Regions from separate parts of the Homo sapiens genome. Here region 2 is linked to region 1. Evidence: fine-mapped expression QTL. Tissue or cell type: tibial artery. Region 1 holds a variant in brackets; the other region holds the start of a gene. All regions are shown on one strand. Distances are between the middles of the regions.

Region 1 (2,500 bases):
CTCATATGAGGACAACACTTGTCATTGGATTTAGGGACCCCCAGGATAATCCAGAATGATCTCTTCATCTCAGGATCCTTAACTACATCAGCAAGGACCCTTTCCCCAAATAAGATCCTGATTCTGGGAATTAGAATGTTGACATATCTTTTTAGGGGGTTGCCATTCAATTTACCACAGTAGGAGTAGCAATTCAGGATGGGGCCTTGAAAAGGAAGCAGAAGAAACAGAAGCCTTCATAATGTGATAGTTTAAAAAATCTGCCTGGTCATTTAAAAAAATCCTTCAGAAAGTAACTTTATTGAGGCACATTTTAAATATCATGTAATTCACCCATTTCAAGAATATAGCTCAATGGTTTTTAGTAAACATACCCAGTTATGCAACCATCATCATAAAATGCTTTAGAACATTTTCATCACCCCAATAACATCCACATCCTTCATGCCCATTTATTGTTAATTCCCATTCCCACTCCCAGCTTCACTGCCTGCTGTCTGCTGTCTCTCTAGATCTGCCTTTTCTGGATGTTTCATATGAGTTGTTTTTTTTTTTTTGTGACCGAGTCCCACTCTGTCACCCAGACTAGAGTACAGTGGTACAATCATGGCTCACTGCAGTCTCGACCTCCTGGGCTCAAGTGATCCTCCCACCTCAGCCTTCTGAGCAGCTGGGACCACAGGTGCATGCCACTATGCTTGGCTAATTTGTTGTTGTTGTTGTTTAGACGGGTTTCACTATGTTGCCTAGGCTGGTCTAGAACTCTTGTACTTAAGCGATCCTCCCACCTTGGCCTCCCAAAGTGCTGAGATTGCAGACATGAGCCACCATGCTTGGCCTAAAGTTTTATTTAAAACTTAAGAAAACATTTCTGATTGTAAAATATGGAGAAGGACAATCCCATCACCTGGAGCCTGTTAGAAATGCAGAATCTGCAGTTTAGCAAGATCCCCAAGGCATTCTCTATATTAGACTTAGACATACTGGTACATTGTATCTGCTATATTGATCCCTTGTCCACTTAATATATTATGAGCACTTCCCCAAAAGTATTATATCTCTTCTGAGAACATTTTAAATCTCATTGTAAGAATATACCACAATCTATTTAACTAGCCACTTCATGGCAGACATTGTTTCCCATCTTTTTTTGCCCTTGAAAATAAAGCTGCAATAATTATCTTTGTATAGAAATATTTGTGTATAGTTTTATATCTACTGTATCAGTAATTCCATTTCTAGGAATTGATTATAAGACAATAATTATAGACAGACTGCTAAAATTTAGAAAGTGCATATGTAAATACTGATCAGTGGAGTCAGTCATTTAAAGTGCTGTTTTCCAGCATGGTACTGGTACCAAAACAGAGATATAGATCAATGGAACAGAACAGAGCCCTCAGAAATAA[C/T]GCCGCATGTCTACAACTATCTGATCTTTGACAAACCTGAGAAAAACAAGCAATGGGGAAAGGATTCCCTATTTAATAAATGGTGCTGGGAAAACTGGCTAGCCATATGTGGAAAGCTGAAACCGGATCCCTTCCTTACACCTTATACAAAAATCAATTCAAGATGGATTAAAGACTTAAAACGTTAGACCTAAAACCATAAAAACCCTAGAAGAAAACCTAGGCAATACCATTCAGGACATAGGCATGGGCAAGGACTTCATGTCTAAAACACCAAAAGCAATGGCAACAAAAGCCAAAATTGACAAATGGGATCTAATTAAACTAAAGAGCTTCTGCACAGCAAAAGAAACTACCATCAGAGTGAACAGGCAACCTACAAAATGGGAGAAAATTTTCGCAACCTACTCATCTGACAAAGGGCTAATATCCAGAATCTACAATGAACTCAAACAAATTTACAAGAAAAAAACAAACAACCCCATCAAAAAGTGGGCGAAGGACATGAACAGACACTTCTCAAAAGAAGACATTTATGCAGCCAAAAGACACATGAAAAAATGCTCATCATTACTGGCCATCAGAGAAATGCAAATCAAAACCACAATGAGATACCATCTCACACCAGTTAGAATGGCAATCATTAAAAAGTCAGGAAACAACAGGTGCTGGAGAAGATGTGGAGAAATAGGAACACTTTTACACTGTTGGTGGGACTGTAAACTAGTTCAACTATTGTGGAAGTCAGTGTGGCGATTCCTCAGGGATCTAGAACTGGAAATACCATCCCATTACTGGGTATATACCCAGCCATCCCATTACTGGGTATATACCCAAAGGACTATAAATCATGCTGCTATAAAGACACATGCACACGTATGTTTATTGCGGCATTATTCACAATAGCAAAGACTTGGAACCAACCCAAATGTCCAACAATGATAGACTGGATTAAGAAAATGTGGCACATATACACCATGGAATACTATGCAGCCATAAAAAATGATGAGTTCATGTCCTTTGTAGGGACATGGATGAAATTGGAAATCATCATTCTCAGTCAACTATTGTAAGAACAAAAAACCAAACAC
Region 2 (2,500 bases), 890 kb after region 1:
CAGGCTTCTGAGGCCTGGCCCCTTCAGCGCGCAGCTGAGGCCCCCCTCCCCGAGGAGAGGAGCAGATGTTTGAGGGCAGAGGGCCTGTCCTGACAGCACCTGCGTGGAGGTGGCAGGAGGGGATTGTTTCTAGGCCAGGCGAGAGGAGCCTGGCAGCCCCTGGAGCCTCGAGCCGGGGGTGGCGGGGGCAGGAACTTCTACCTCCCTGCTCAGAGCCAAGAAGTCAATTTGAACCTTTGCTGGGGCTCGGTATTAACACGTTCTGCCTTGGAGGGCAAGCCGGTGGGGCCAGGAATAAGCATTCCTTTTAACAACTTCAGTTGAAAAGCAGCCACCGCCCCACCCGCTGCTGTCCCTGGCTCTCATCAGGTGAATTCAGCATTCCTGCCACCCTGCCAGTGCCTCTGTGATCCTGGGCATGAGTTGACCACTATGTACCTCAGTTTACCCATCCACAAAAAATGCAAAAGGCCAGGACTAAGCATGGGGGCGTGACGTGAACTCCCGCTCCTCCTCTGGTCAAGGGCTTCATGCTTAGAGGAAACCAGATAAGCCCTATTGCAACCCCACCTGGAGTGGAGTGGGGGAGGATGAGGAGGAGGGGGAGACCCTACCTTCCACAGGCCCAGGGACTCGAGGGGTGGGGCTCCATTAGGAGATCAGTCGGGGCATGGTGAAGGGGAGGAGAGGTTGTCAAGGCTCAGCTGCCTGGACAGAGAGGATGGAAATACTCCCTGTGTGAAAAAAGAAAAGGAAAAGACCCCAGATCAGGAGGCAGGAAATGCAGTTTGGCAGAGTTGGTTGATGCCACTTACTTCTGGACAAGAAGACTGGAGGCTTGGCCACCCTTGATGGAAATTGCAGCAGAACCATCTCTCTATTCTGTTGATTCCCGCACCAGGCTGGCAAATAGCTTTTGTCTTTTCTGCTTCCTTGTTGCAAAAGGGTACAAAAGCCTCCCACCCACCCCACCCCCAATCGCCCTTTGTGCCATTATCTTTCAAGGTGACTTAGCTTTTGAAGTCCCTGCCATCTGCTCTGCAGGCCTGTACTTTGCAGGATGTGAGAGCACCGCGTTCCCAGAATGCCTTCTGTTCTACCCGACGTGGCTACTGATAGCTCTGCCTGTGAGGGGAAAAGAAAGCTGCGCTGTGGCCCCCTTAAAGCCCAGTCCCTGCTGTCTCCCTCAAAAAGCCACTTAGGAAAGCCACGGCCTTGAGGTACCAAGAGAGTTCTTTGAGAAATGAGAGTGGAAACTGTGAGAGAGGCTGCTCTGCAGTCGAGTGCTGGGCACGTCTGACGATGCCTGGGAGAGGAAAAAATTCCATCAAAAAACTACCATGGTTTTCTTTAGAGGAACATATGTGCACTTTTGGCAAAACATGCCTTCTCAGGAGAGCTGGAATAGTTGGAACCAATGAACTCTGAAGTCATGTGATTCGTCCCTCTGTCTTCGTGCAGTCCTTAAACTATTCTGAAAAATGCATGAATCCAACACGAATCCTAGCATTTCTGCCATGCCCACTGAGGGCCAGGCAGGCATACAGCCTGGTTGGGGGGTGGGAGGGTGAAAAGTATCTCTTTTTGTGCTTGAAGGCCCCTGAGGAAGCCCCTAGGCTCCCGTGGTGAGTGTTCCCTGCGCTGGCCTAGCAGGGTGTTGGTGTCTTGAGCCCGAATCCTGTGCAGCATTGGCCCAACCCTTGCAGGTGGCCGCCACCCCTTTCCCCTGCAGCTGGCATAGCCAAGGTGCCAGGCTCTGCAAAGGGTAAGCTGCATCTGAATTGGGCACGAGGGGATGGTTGTGCCTTCCACATCTCCTTTTGTGAAAGATCTTCCCAGATGCAAACCCAGGATGGACTTGCCAAAGAGAAATCCCAGTAACTGGCTCTAATCTCTGTGCCACCAGCTGCCATTGTCTCGAAGTTCATTTGCAAACAACAGAAACCAACTGTGGCTGGGTTAAGTGGGAAGTTTATTAAACAATATTGGATAGGTCACATGGTCACCAGGCTAAGCGGCTCCCTAGCCAGGACCAAGATCCCATGTCATTCTCCAGTACTCCCAGGTTCATACCCCAGGACTTACACCACAGACACCCCCAATGCTGGGCACTGTCACTGGGACCACTGCCTCTGCTCTTTTGGAAACTAAATGTAGAGGCTTCTACTTGTCACCAAAAGGGATTTTAAACAGCCACTAGCTGCCACTTCAAGGTCTCAGGCAAGCATACTGCCTCGGCTGAGGGAGAGGTTAGAAAAAACAGCATCCAGCCAGGCGTAGTGGCTTGTGCCTGTAATCCTGGCGCTTTGGGAGGCCTAGGCAGGAGGTCTCGAGCCCAGGAGCTAGAGACCAGCCTAGGCAACAATGTGAAACCCTCCCTACAAAAAATAAAATCAGCAAGGCACAGTGGTATACACCTGTTTTCCCAGCTACTCAAGAGGCTGAGGTGGGAGGATCACTTAAGCCTGGGAAGTCAAGGCTGCAGTGAACCGTGATTGCA

Alleles and levels. Positions count from the first base shown, and alleles are read on the strand shown. Sizes are in standard deviations (SD) of each study's normalised expression.
As copies of T replace C in region 1, the expression in tibial artery of the gene that starts at base 947 in region 2 goes down (moderate effect, 0.71 SD a copy in GTEx).

Evidence for each region. PIP is the estimated chance that this variant, and not a neighbour inherited with it, causes the effect.
Region 2: PHKA2-AS1 starts here. The variant in region 1 is fine-mapped to the expression of PHKA2-AS1 in tibial artery (GTEx, PIP 0.97).

What each region holds. Positions count from the first base shown.
Region 1 is chrX:19,779,675-19,782,174 of GRCh38, reverse strand. The region is part of intron 2 of SH3KBP1 (SH3 domain containing kinase binding protein 1); the gene reads left to right. Among named protein-coding and RNA genes, the nearest start is that of SH3KBP1, 110 kb to the left of the region's middle. The variant C/T (reference allele first, on the strand shown) is at 1,410.
Region 2 is chrX:18,888,743-18,891,242 of GRCh38, reverse strand. It overlaps PHKA2-AS1 (PHKA2 antisense RNA 1), which reads right to left and starts at 947. Exons shown (of 3, transcript NR_029379.1): 1 at 615-947.